2 linked regions of the Homo sapiens genome follow. The protein of the gene in region 1 purifies or fractionates together with the protein of each later gene. This does not show direct contact. Each region holds a gene or a part of one and is shown in the gene's direction. Other genes may lie near its edges.

What was found. The genes of interacting proteins can lie anywhere in the genome.
Region 2: the proteins of RFX3 (region 1) and PABPC5 purify together in Homo sapiens (affinity purification with mass spectrometry; 2 studies listed by BioGRID and IntAct, with this or other methods). This does not show direct contact.

What each region holds. Positions count from the first base shown.
Region 1 is NC_000009.12:3,515,951-3,523,045, reverse strand, and holds part of RFX3 (transcription factor RFX3), read left to right. Parts: intron 1-7,095. UniProt on the Homo sapiens protein: Transcription factor required for ciliogenesis and islet cell differentiation during endocrine pancreas development. Essential for the differentiation of nodal monocilia and left-right asymmetry specification during embryogenesis.
Region 2 is NC_000023.11:91,430,515-91,437,924, forward strand, and holds the start of PABPC5 (polyadenylate-binding protein 5), read left to right. Parts: upstream 1-4,324; 5' UTR 4,325-4,380; intron 4,381-4,388; exon of another isoform or gene 4,389-4,485; intron 4,486-4,920; 5' UTR 4,921-5,063; coding exon 5,064-6,212; 3' UTR 6,213-7,410. UniProt on the Homo sapiens protein: Binds the poly(A) tail of mRNA. May be involved in cytoplasmic regulatory processes of mRNA metabolism. Can probably bind to cytoplasmic RNA sequences other than poly(A) in vivo.

The sequences.
Region 1 (7,095 bases):
AGTTTTGCATCGTTTCACAATGTTTTCATTAAAGGTTGTAGTGATGGTTAGTTTTTTTTGTATTATTCCTCCAGTACTCAAATAGTCTTGTACTCTGCTTTGGTACTCAAATAAAAGGTTATAGTTTATAAGCTTACTGTGCTTTAACCTGGAACAGTTTATTTTACCCTAAACAATTTATTATGGTTAATTTTTTTACCATTAACAATAGCAATTAAAAAATGAATGAATCTTAAAGGCAAGTTGGATTTTATGCGTCGTTTAAATGATAATGTATGTTACTTTTTGGTAACATTTTTCATTTCTTGAGAAAGTTGATATTGTGTTGGTATTCTCCAGCTGAAGAAATTAGCAGGCAGAATATAATGATTTTTGGTTTTCAGATTTTAAAGTCTGTGTGTGTGTGTGTGTTTGTGTTTAAATGGGTGGGCATAGCAGCAGATGTGTGGCAAAAGTTACACACACACACACACACACACACACACACACGCACACACACTTTTCCAGAACAGTAATAGGAATATTACTTTGTTCTTAGTATCCATAGTGAGAATGTGTTACAAGAAATGAGAATAGGGAAGAAGTAAACTTTAACATTTTTGAGAGGCTCCTGGTTATTTTGTTTTAATGCTGAACCTTTGGCTAAAAATCCTCTATTTGAGCTCAGTTACCTTAAAAACAGTTTTCATAACTGAGTAATTTGCCTTTAACTCTTTGGTATATATTCCCAGTGGCCATGACAAAGTATGTTTTAAATTCCTCTCTATTCACAGATACATAGTGTTCCCATATTTTGGAAATCCAAGATTAAGTGGATTTGACTAAATCTGGCTTGTTAGGGACAGATGGCTGCTTTAAACAGGTGTCACTTTCATTTTTTACTGCATTGTGTTGGGACTTCCAGTGGTTGACAAAAGGGCTGTCTAAAGCAGGTGGCATCCTTTGCTTTTGTTGTTAGTAAAATCTACTTTTAGAGTTTTCTAGGAAAAGTTTTTTTTTTTTAAAGTAAAAGTTTTGAACTACTCAAGATTCGTAATTTAACATAACTTTTATTTCTGAATATTCTATTTTTAAGTGGTAGAACCTGCAGATTCTTTCACAAAACACTTATCAATTCTTATAAATAATGGTAAATTCCCTTTGAATCCAGAAAAAGTACACAGGAACATTTTACACACCCAAGTCAAACCCCAAGGCCAATTTGAATAAAGTGAAATTTGGTTAACATGACAAGTTAACTTTTGTCATCCTTTACTGAAATAATTTTTTGACAGCATTTTTTATATGTTGGAAATAGGTGTTGTTTTTGTTGGTTAAGTATTTTCAAACTAAGACATTTCCTGACTTCATTTACTGCTATAAAGTTTATAGTGATCTTTTAAAATGATAATATTTTTAAGTATTAATGTTCAAAAATATGTACTGCAGTAAATAAAAAAACTATCAACCTATTGATTTCTAAGGTTCACTTTTACTCTACAATTCTGTCCTTTTCTGTGGGAATTTTATATTTCTTATAACAGATGCACCAGAGGGTGCTGTGCTGTTTGCAACATGAGATTATTATCACTAAGAATGTGAACTCACTAGAACTTTTATTTAAAGAAAAAAATTTTTAATTATATATGCATTGAAGCATATAATAGGCTTATTTTTATGGAGTTTAACATACTATCTTAATTGGCAGTTTTACATCAGAACCTAACTTCGTGTACTAATACATATTACCGCAACATATAACAATATAAAGATTGATATCTTTGGCACTGTCTGGCATTAGTCCTATAGGCATATATGTTGATTATCTTATGTAGATATTTTAATCTTTATTTCAAAACTTAGGTTACCCTGAGAATCATACTATTTGGCGATATGTGGCTTTATACTTCTTAAATTTCATATGATTAGCACATATCAATAATTGTCCATTCTTATAACACTTTTACATGGCATAGTGATATGCTTTTTATTGTATAATCTTTAAAAAAACCACTGGAAAAATAAATGGCAATAGTGGTTATCAGGCTAATTCATAATAAAATAGTATTGACATTATCTAGATAATTCTGGCTGGTTGTATTGGTTCACATTTATAATCCCAACACTTTGGGACTGAGGCAGAAGGATCACCTGAGGCTATGAGTTCAAGAGCAGCCTGGGCAACATAGCAAGATTTCATTTCTGTAAAAAAAAGTAAAAGAAAATTAGCCAGCCTTGCCGGTGCGTGCCTGTAGTTCAAGCTACTCAGGAGACTGAGGTGAGAGAATTTTTTAGCCCAGGAGTTTCAGGTTACAGTGGGCTATGATCATGCCACTGCACTTTAGCCTGGGTGACAGAGCAAGACCCTGTCTCAAAACACCAAAAACAGAAACGAATGCAATCCGTACTTCATGCTGTTGGAATAGGCTAGTTTGATTGTTTAATTTGGCTTATTATCTGAAAACTTTTAGGTTCCCAGCCCTACTGTGTGCCATATACTTTTAAACTGGGAGTGATCTTATATTGCTTTTTGTATTTTATTTGTTCAGTGAGAGATTTTTAGGAGAATACTGAATCCAATCTTGGGCTACTTCTTGTATCATCGACTCTTTTCACAGCAATATATACTCTAAAAGACATACTGAAACAGTGATACCTTCCTTAAGTAAGCTTAGAAAGATACAGTTACAGCATATAAACTTTTTAATCTTGATAATGGATTTATCTGTACTAGTCCATATTTTACTATAATTAGTTAATTGTGATATTTTTATAAAGTAAGCTTACAAGGCATAGTAGTTCATGTGTGTTAGACTGCCTCAAAGAATCCAAAACATTTATTAAAGTAACACTATGTTTAAATACTGGTCTTGCTAAAATAGGTTAGGCATTTTTCTTTAAAAATATAGTCCTACAGTTTACCAGTTAGTTTTTGCCACTAAGATTTTTCCTTTTTTGAAACAGGGTTTTGCTCTGTCACTCAGGCTGGAGTGCAGTGGCATAGTCATAGCTCACTGCAGCCTCAATCTCCTGGGCTCACGTGGTCCTCCTGCCACAGCCTCCTGAGTAGCTAGGACTACAGGCTGTTGCCATCATTTTAAAATTTAAAACATTTCAATTTTTTTTTTTTTTGTAGAGACAGGGTCTTGCTACATTGCCCAGGCTAGATTTTTGAAAGTATACTTTATAGCAAGTTGTATTGCTTCAAAATCTTTATATTTGTAGTTTTTATTTCGTATCAAATGCAGAGTGTTCTTAGTGAAAACAAATCAGTTAAAAATGGAAACGTGTTTAGAGTATCAATAAATAGGTATAAATAGGTTTTGTTCTTTAAATAGATGGATAGAATAAGTATACTGGTGAATAACAGGCTTTGGAGTCAGATTTCAGATAATCTCATTAGTTGTGTGACTTTGGACAAGTTATTACCTTCACTTAACCTCAGTTTTCTCATTTGAAAAATAGGATCAATCTTCCCTGCCTTATGGGGTTTTGTGAGGATTAAAGGAGATAATTTATGTAACGTACTTTGCTCAGTATTTGACACAATATGTGTTCAATACGCGTTGGCTTTATTTTTAGGGAAGGCTGAGAAAATACCTATTCTAATCTTTTTGCTACCTAAGAATCCTTTGACCATCCCTTTTTTAATGAGCCCAAAAAGTTTTGAAAGACTTTGCTTACCAATTTATACTCATTAAATAATAATTATTCTTTTTCCTCCACTTTAAAAAATAAGGCACAGACAAGCTGCCAATCACAGGCTTGGATTATCATTTGATAACCAGTCTTATCACACTGAATTAATAGAATGCTAGCCCAAAGTTATGTTTTAGTTTTACTCTGCAGCCTTATAATGGGCTCCTTTTACTAGGTTTGCATAACTCTCCTGGTCAAAGGATTTTAGATTAAGAACTAATGATGTAATATGTCATTATCTGTTATACTCCCATTGTCCAGTTCATTGTCCCACTTATATTTTTATTTTCACGTTATACATGAATTATTTGAAAACAGTCTGAGCCCTATTTATAAACTTTATACTGAATGTAGTCAGTAAAGTTTAATAATAATAAATAGTCTAGTCAGTTGTGTAAAGATGAGTTTATCAAAGAATTATTCTACATTTTTATAATGCGTTGCTTAGAATTGTTACTTTACTAAGGGTAGAAAAATGTGTGAGGTTACTACTTGTGTACCTACAGCAATAAATAATTTTGGGATGATTTGTCAATCCCAATCTTGAGTTGTAAAGTAACCTTGGAACATTATTTAGTGTAATATATAATATGAAATCATAGAGGAAATATATCACCTGTGGCTTCCTTTCATTAGATATTAAAGATGTTTAAGTAACATTTTCAAGTTGGCTGCTTAATTATTAAAGTTGCTATTCAGTAATTTCCTTTATTTCTATATTTTTCCTGAACATTTTCATCAGAATGAAATACTTTTCTCATTTTAGAGTGATCTATAAACAGTCCTAATCTTTCTCAAACTGGAAATTTGACTTATATATTTCAGTTGAGAATTTACCTGATACTATATGTCTTTTCTTTTTTGCCAAAGCATTGTATATTGTACAGATGTTTGTCTGTGTCACTCATTTCACCATTCTCCCCACTCCCGTTAAGTGTTTAGTTATATGACCCCCTTTGCGTTATTTTTGTAGATAATTAGCCCCAACATATCAATTAGACTGACTCTCAGCTTAGCCACCTCCTCTGCTTCCTTTCGCCAGTGAATTTGACACAGATTTAAAAGGAACTTTTGGGAAAAGTTTAGGAAATGTGATTTGGATGGTCAGGTTATGCAGTCATACATTACTTAATGATATGGATATGTTCTGAGAATTACGTAGTTAGGTGATTTCATCATTGTGTGAACATCATAGAGTGTACCCAACACACACCTAGATGGTATAGCCTGCTACACGCCTATGCTATATAGTATAGCATATTGTTCTCGTCTATAAACCTGCGTAGCATGTTATTGGACTGAATACTGTAGGCACTTGTAACTCAGAGATAAGTATTTGTGTATCTGAACATATCTAAACGTAGAAAAGGTAATGCATTGTGTCAAGATGTTTAGTTGGTTATGATGTCACTGGGCTATAGGAATTTTTGAGCTCCATTTTGTTATGGGATGTGGTTTGTTGTTGACAGAAATGTTATGTGGTGCGTGACTGTATGGTTATTCTTACCATTTCCGATAGTCTATTATTATCTTACAATTTCTACTCATCTGACTGTCCTCTTGGACAAATTTATAACCTTGTTCCACTAACTATGTAATTTGAGTGTGGTTTTGATTCAGAAGGCTCCCTTCTTAGTCCTGGCTATGTACTGGCCTCTGGCTAAGTACCTTAGGGTTAAATCTGTAGTCCATAAACACTGTGTTTGCACAATCACAGATGCCTGCTGTTGTTGACTTTTAATTCCTGGATTCTCCTTTCTCACTTTTATTAGAAGCAGTAATACCCAGCTAGTACTGCTTGCCTTTGCTTTAGAGTGCTTGGTCAAGATTTCTGAAGGTTCTTGGTAATTCCTGTTTAGGCAAAAATGAGGTATTGGGTAATAGGAGTTGAGCTTAGGAAAACTAATAGAGTGAGACAGCTGTCCTCAAAATAATAGTGTGTTAGTTGGTAAGAGGAGACAGATACAGTGAAAGATGATAAAAGGAGAAAGGACAGCGAGTGACCAGGCCAAGATATAAAGGACTTCAAAAATGCTAGCCAAAGGAGGTTAAAGAGAAAATAAAGGTTCTCACTCTATTTCTAACTGTAAAACCTTAGCCTGGTCACTTATACCCTATAGGTCTCAGTTTCTCCATCTGTAACATGAAACAATAGGGCTATGGGATTTCTAAAGCCCTTTCCAATCTATGATTCTGTAGCAAGATTGACACTGGGAAAGGGAAGGAAACATGCCAATAACATGGAGCCAGGAATTGGCATTTCCCTTACTCATGTTCTCAAAGGCTAGCAAGTTGTTTGCTTATTGTTTCTTCTGGTAAGAACAAGAAAGAAAGAAAACCCACAGCCTGGTGCTAGCATAATGGCCATACCTATAGCAAAGTCTCAGAAGGTTCCACCATTTCAATGGCTTCTGTAGAGAGTGGTGGCCAAGTGCCCTCATTTTCTCACCCACATAGGAATTAGCTGAGTCTCACAGCTTGAGCTCCTGCCGGAGCCAGCTTCTCTATGTGTGTGTGCCAGACAAGTGTCTGACATTTGGGGCTCCTCCTGTCTGTTGCTCACCAATGAGATATTTAAAACAGGACATAATTTCCCGAGTATGTGGATAGGCAATTTAACAGAGAGAGAGAGAGAGAGAGAGTGCGAAAGCGAGCTAGTGCATGTGTGCTCTCTGATCAGAATAAAAATTAATTTAGGTTTCTGTTGATCTCATTTTTAAGACATTTCTTCCCCAATTATTGAAGCTATTCAACTGGTTTTTAAGAAGAGCTAAAAATCCCGTCAAGGTCTAGACAAGCTCCGAGAGCCTTTGGACTACTTTGGGGTCCCTGGTCTGGAAAGCATTGCTATCCTCCACACTAGTCTCATATTTTTCCATCGGTAATAGTTACTGCTTTTCTTTTTCTTAATATTGTTTATACTTGGATAAGCATTCTTTTAATTCAGCTTTGGTAGCAGAAAAATAGTCTTTTGTTTAAGAAGTATACATTTTCTTAAATTTTAAAAAATTTTTAGTTTAGGCTGGGTGCGGTGGCTCATGCCTGTAATCCCAGCACTTTGGGAGGCTGAGGCGGGTGGATCACGAGGTCAGGAGATCTAGACCATCCTGGCTAACACGATGAAACCCCGTCTCTACTAAAAATACAAAAAATTAGCTGGGCGTGGTGGCGGGCGCCTGTAGTCCTAGCTACTCGGGAGGCTGAGGTGAGAGAATGGTGTGAATACAGGAGGTGGAGCTTGCAGTGAGCCGAGATCACGCCAGTGCGCTCCAGTCTGGGCAACAGAGCAAGACTCCATCTCAAAAAAAAAAATTTTTTTTTTTACTTTAATACTACTTTGGTTAGTAGACTTCTCAAGATTTTAGAACATAGCAGGCTAAAAGAGGAAGCATTTTTGCATTTATTCAGGATAAGTCA
Region 2 (7,410 bases), on another chromosome or scaffold:
CATGTATTTTACAACAATTTTAAAATTTAAAATAAAGCATAATGTTCACATCTTTTAAAATTATTATTCTTTTATTTATTCTTCTAGGTCAAGTGAAAGGACTACAAATCAAGATTTCTAATCAGAGAATGTGCTAAATATATATTTTCCCTATATGAGACGTGTTCAGTTAACAAGCACTAGCAAAGAAACAGAAATTTGTCTGAGACTATCTGCTAAGCAGGCAACGATCGCCTACCTTGTTTCAATGTATCATAACAGAAAATAGCTTAATTATATATAAATCTCTAAATACACTGGATTCTGAATACATAGTAACTGCTTAAATTCACATGTACTATTCTAAGTATTTATTTTAAACTAATAATATCTAATTAAAAGGGCACTCTAAGATGTGTTAATCAATCTGATTTTAGTCATCATTATACAATGCATACATATAGCAAATCATCACATTGTACATCTTGAATATATACGATCTTTGTCCATTAAATATTTTAAAATAAAAAATCACCCTGAGGAGATGCCAAACTAACTCAAAATATATTTAAAGTTGTTATATTATTTTTATTATATGTTTTTTAATACTCATATTTCTTCACAGTTGAATGATTTTTTTAAAAAATTGTACTAAGAACACTTAACATGCGATCAACCCTTCTAACAAACTTTTTAAGAGCACAATACAGTATTTTTAAATATAGGCACAATGTTGTACAGCAGCTCTCTAGAACTTGTTCATCTTGTGTAACCAAAACTTTATGTCCACTGAATTCCCCAGTTCCCCTCCAGCAGTCGCTCCCAACCACCACTCTACTCTCTGTTTCCATGAGTCTAACTATTCTAAATATGTCATTGACATGGAATCATGCACTATTTGCCCTTCCGTGATTGGCTTATTTCACTTCACATAATGTTCTTGAGCTCCATCCCATCCCTGTTGCCACATGCTGCAGGATTTCTTTTTTTTTAGGCTGAATAATATTCCATTGTATGTTTATACCACATTTTCTTTATGCATTCAACCATCAATGGACATTTATGTCATTTCCAAGACTTAGCTATGGTAAATAATGCTGTAATTAACACGGGAGTGCAAATATCTCTGAGATTCTGATTTCAATTACTTTGGATATATACCTAAATATATGTGACTACTATCCAGTAGAACTTGGATACATATTAACTCAATTAGTTGTGTGTGGGGAGGGGTAGAGAGCATGAATGTTGGCAGATTGCAGGAGTAAGGTTACATGTTACCTTGTAAGGATTTAGCAATCCTAGTAGGATTGCTGCTTCATATGGAATTTCTACTTTTAAGTTTTTGAAGAACCTCCATACTGTTTACCATAGCAGTTGTACCACTTTACATTCCCACCAAAGGTAATGGATTCCAATTCTTCCACATACTGGCCAACATTTGTTATGTTTTGATTTTTTATAATAGCCATCTCTACAGATGTGAGACGACATCTCATTAAGGGTTTGATTTGCATTCCAATGATGATTATGATGTTGAGCATCTTTTCATTTACCCATTAGCCATTTATATTCCTTCTTTTGAGAGATGACTATTCAAGTTGTTTCTTTGTTTGTTTTTGCCATTAAGTTGTAAAAGTTCCTTTTATTTGGGGACGATAGCCCCTTATCAAATACTTGTTTTACAAAAATTTTCTCCCATTCTGTAAGCTACCTTTACACTGTTGATTGTTTATTTTGCTGTGCAGAAGCCTTTTAATTTGATGTACTCTTTTTCTATATTCTTTTTTTTTTTTTTTTGCTTGTGTTTTGGTGTCATATACAAGAAGTCATTGGTAAGACTAATGTCAAGAAGCTCTTACCCTGTTTTCTTCTAAAATTTTATAGTTTCGGATCAGGTTGAAAGTCTGTATTTTGAGTTGATTTTTGTGTACAGTGTAAGATAAGGATCCAATTTTACGTATATCCAAGTTTTTAACACTATTTGTGAAAGAGACAATCCTTTCTTTATTGTGTTTTCTTGGCACCTTTGTCAAAGACCACTTAACTGTACATGTGTGGGTTTATTTCTGGGCTCTTTATTCTGCCTCATTGGCCTATATGTCTGTTTTTTATGACAGTGCTACAGTGTTGTAATTACTGTAGCTTTGTAACATGTTTTGAAATCAGGAAGAATGGTGTCTCCAGCTTTTTTCTTCGTTCTCAGATTGCTTTGGTTATTCAGGGTTTTTTTGTGACTACAAATGAATTTTAGGTTGTTTTTTCTATTTCTGTAAAAAAAAAATGCCATTGGGCTTTTGATAGGGATTATATTGATCAGTTTGGATAGTATGGAGATTTAAAAAATATTAGACTTTAGGGTTTTCTACAGATAAGATTATGCCATCTGCAAACAAAGATTAATTTACTTTTTTCTTTCTGATTTTGATGCTTTTATTTCCTTCTCTGGCCTAATTGCTCTGCCTAAGGTTTCCAGTACTATGTTGAATGGAAGTGGTAAGTGTAGAGAAGTGATTATTTTGAAAACGTGTATTATAACAAATCAATTCTAACTATAATCTTAGAGAAAATATGTACAAATAAATTTGAATATGGACAACATTTAGTTGGTTACAGGAACAGATGAAAATATTGATTTGAATCAATGATGAGATTGTGGAAATTGGATTTATGTTGTTATTTTACTATTTTCAATAAGGCAGTTTTAAAAATGAGAAAAGTCCAAAACAGACTAGAATTCTAACCCATTGTTAATTACGCATAAAAGAAAATATGTTTATAAAAATATATTCAAAATGCAATAAACTAGGCAGATGTTCACAAGTGTTTCCACATGTTGGTCACTCTGGTCACACTGTAAAACCCATTTATTAGTCTATAATATCATTGTTCATATTTGCCTTTTCTCAAAATCTCCATGTCTTAGTTAACCAAGAACACTAGAAAGCAAGCAAAAAAAAAAAATAGTAAAGAAAATTACTAAGTTTTTGAGTAAATAATGAGGTTTAATGTCAACTCTACAGTCTAATAGACACTATAAAATGTATAAAGTGAATGAATACGTTAATTTAGCCTCTTATTCTGAGGACTTATTAGGAAAACACCCACTAAGGTAATGTCCTTCTCTTGCAATCTTTTTTTCCCAGGATCTTTTCCAGCCTAAGAGTAGTGATAGATGTTTTGTTTGGATTTTTCTGGAGGGGTAGGAATTGTGGAAGGAGCCTCTTGAAGTGTTGTTTGCGCATGCTAGATATCAGTGAATTTCTGAAAACACGGTCAAAATTTCTCTCCAAAAGGGTTTCTCAAATACTCTGAAGAGAGATATTGTTGAGAAACTGCTGAGTTGAGTCCAGTCTGATGGCACTGTTTCCTTCAAGGGTTTCAAGTTGACAACTCATGATGAAATTCATAATTGTGTAAAGTGCATATATCTTAACATGTTTATTTCATCTGTAAATATTAATTACATATTTTGTATTGATTCTGTGGCTTTTATCTCTTTAACTGAGATTTTGTAACTGTAATTCTCGCGGCAGCTCAACAGTTTCAACGTTTTGTGGCACTAAACACCATCAAAAGCCATTATATGGCTCTCCAATCATTAAAACCTTAGTATTATGGGATCAGAGAAAAGATCTCTTTGCCTACCACCTGAGGAAAATATTACCATTATGTTGGAGATTAATGAAGTAAGGCTAAAGGCCAAAGGCAACATGGTCCTGTGTTCTACTTGACCCTGTGATCCTTTAGCACTGGATTGGGAGGCCAGGACATTTGTAAACTTTGACTTTCCAATGCACTCAGGAAAGTATGCAACCTATCCTTTTCCCTAAGCTTAAATGATTTTGATAATTAGTTTTTTAAAACTTATTATTTTTGCCCAGGTCGTCATCTTCTTATGTGATTTTTAGATGTTCGGCTTAAATATAGTGTTTTAAATAATAAATAACATTTAAAATATAAGAAACATCTAAAAGCCATCTTAGATTTTTCTTTCTCTCCTTCTCTCTCTCTCTCTCATTCTCTCCCCTTCTCTCTCTCTCTCTCTCTCTCTCTCTCTCTCCCCCCTTCTCTCTCTCTCTTTTTTTTTAAATCTTGGTACAGAGGAAGCGGGAAGTTACTTAGCACGGTTCCGGGTTTCTCGCGCCCCGCCTGTCCCCCCTCCCTATCACTGCTACTGGCTCTTGGTCCCTCCGTTGGACTGTCCTGCGGAGAGAAACCCCAGCCCATCGGTCTGCGCTGGGACCGCCCGCCGCGCATCTGCCCTTCTTCGCTGACTCCGCCCCGCATCTGGCCAGACCCGCCTCGCGTCAGAGCTGACCCACTCACTGCGCGTTTGCCAGTCAGTCTCTCCGGACCTGCCTCGAGCCTCAGGCTGCTGAAATCACCGCGCCTCACTCGGTCCGTACCCAGTGGGCATCTTGGGTATCTGGGCGGTCTTCGATCCCCCGCGCGTGTGTCTGTCTGTCTGTCTCTGTGTCCTATCCGCTGCCTGCAGCCTGCCTGCCGGTCTTATCGCACCAAGTGTCTGGTGTACCCTTTCGCAGACGCTGAGTGCGGAGAGGCCTTAGCGAAAGGCTAGCCAGCCCGAGACTGGCCAGGCAGCCGGCGGAGGAATACGCGCTCGGTCCCTGCCCTTGTTGATATCATTTTAAACCAACAGGAGCTCTAGGCCTATATTTATGCAGAAAGCGGGTCGGGAGGCCTCTGTCTGCAATGCTAGTTGTGGGGAACCAGCCAGCTGCTTGGTGGCTTCTCACAATTTCACGGGGACAGGAAAATTACGTTTCTGGTACTGGCTTTTGAAACTGATTTTAAATCTGAACGGGTGACAATTTTAAGTCCCCGCAGGGAGAATAGATTCGTATTTGGGGCGCCTTTTTGTCTGATGTGTTTGTTCTGAGCCTGCTGACCAGCTGTTTCTGAACTTCATTTTCTCAGCCTCGACAGTGATTCTGAGTCTGCTTTTAGCTTCCTTTTGCCTGCCTTGGCTTTTTCTGTTCGTGAACAGCTGTTTGGCCCATAGCTTAGAGAAAGCAGCCTTTTTTCTCTTCAAAGAGAACCTCCTCCCAGTGCTCAGAGAGATGGGGAGCGGGGAGCCTAATCCTGCTGGCAAGAAAAAGAAGTATCTCAAGGCCGCTCTGTACGTGGGTGACTTGGACCCAGATGTCACCGAGGACATGCTCTATAAGAAGTTCAGGCCTGCTGGCCCTCTGCGATTCACCCGAATCTGCCGTGATCCGGTGACCCGCAGCCCCCTGGGCTATGGGTATGTTAACTTCCGCTTTCCCGCGGATGCAGAGTGGGCCTTGAACACCATGAATTTTGATTTGATTAATGGAAAACCATTCCGCCTTATGTGGTCTCAGCCAGATGACCGCTTAAGAAAGTCTGGAGTGGGAAATATATTCATCAAAAACCTGGACAAATCCATAGACAATAGGGCCCTGTTTTACTTATTTTCTGCTTTTGGGAACATTCTGTCCTGCAAAGTCGTATGCGATGACAACGGCTCTAAGGGTTATGCCTATGTTCACTTTGACAGCCTGGCCGCTGCCAATAGAGCCATCTGGCACATGAATGGAGTGCGGCTCAACAACCGCCAGGTGTATGTTGGCAGATTCAAATTCCCAGAAGAGCGGGCGGCTGAGGTCAGAACCAGGGATAGAGCAACTTTCACCAATGTTTTCGTTAAAAACATTGGAGACGACATAGATGACGAAAAACTGAAGGAACTTTTCTGTGAATATGGGCCAACTGAGAGTGTTAAAGTAATAAGAGATGCCAGTGGGAAATCTAAAGGCTTTGGATTTGTGAGATATGAGACACACGAGGCTGCCCAAAAGGCTGTGCTAGACTTGCATGGAAAGTCCATCGATGGAAAAGTCCTCTATGTAGGGCGAGCACAGAAGAAAATTGAACGCCTGGCTGAGTTGAGGCGGAGATTTGAACGGCTGAGGTTAAAAGAAAAAAGTCGGCCCCCAGGGGTGCCTATCTATATTAAGAACTTGGATGAGACAATCAATGATGAAAAACTGAAGGAGGAATTTTCTTCCTTTGGGTCAATTAGTCGGGCCAAAGTGATGATGGAAGTGGGGCAAGGCAAAGGATTTGGTGTGGTCTGCTTTTCCTCTTTTGAAGAGGCTACCAAAGCAGTGGATGAGATGAATGGCCGCATAGTGGGCTCCAAGCCCCTGCATGTCACCCTGGGCCAGGCCAGGCGCAGGTGCTGAGAATAAGAATGCTCAGTTTGTTTCAGCCTTAGTTGGTGCCTCCTTAGTTTGGGCTCCTTTGTGATAAGGGGTTATTTTATGCTAATTCACAAGTTTTTTTTTGAAGTGAATTCTTTTGAAAAAAAAATGCAAAACTAGAAAACTTTATTCATTTTAGAATAGAACATAATTTCTAACTGTAAAATTGTCATTTTGTACTTTTTTTGATGTAATATCCTTAGAAATCTGTAGAATAAAGTGTATTCCTCCACTTTTTTTTCCTGAACAGTCAAGGTGAGGCAATTGATTGAGTATATTTCCCTTCTTATTTCAGTAATACTCTATTTTTTTTCATGAAAATGTCAACATGGTTCTTCTGAATCTATCACAGTGAAAAGTTCTAACTTGTTTTTGAGAAGTCAGTACAGCAGGGGAAAACATATGTGATGCAATTAACATCTGCATAATTTCACTTAAAATTATTATGCAAAAATGAATGTTTTTTCAAAAAATGTGAAATGTATTTTATTTTCTTTATTTGTATTCTTGTTTCATTTTTTAATATGTTGTGAACATGCTACAGATTTGATAGTACTTTTGACTAAATGTTGGGAGTGGTCGTATTAACTTCTTGCCCAAAGAAGTAAGCATATTGGTGTTTTCTCAATTAGTCACTGAGAAAATTAACACTTTAGGCAGTGGCTATTTAAAGTAGGAATTGCATCTTAAAAACCTTTCCTAAGAGATTTGGTATGTGAGGATACTTTCAGTACCACTCCTACCATTCATTTTTCTAAATTCCTTAGTACATATACTTGGATCATGTTAAATTAACAAGAAAGATGAATAACTGCGCTGAATTGCCTTTACCTATAAATAATTTAATATTTTACCTTCGGGTTTTATCAACTGTCAATATAAAAGGCAGTACTCCACAGAATGATGTTGAAAAACTTCTTCGAAGAACACCTTCTATTAAACTTGTTATCTCTTGTAAATTATTGTGTGTGTCCTTTTGATAATATTCACAGGTGTTTCAAAGGTAAGGAATAGGTTGTCTCTTGGATTAAGTCATATGCCTCCAGCCATTATATGAGAACTGTGAAACCAATATGGTTTTCTTTATGTCTTGGCTGCTTGAAAATTAAAAAAAAAAAAGGTTTGTTCAATATTGCCGTTACATTTATTAGCCTGTAATTTCTAAATTGGAGATTCTCTA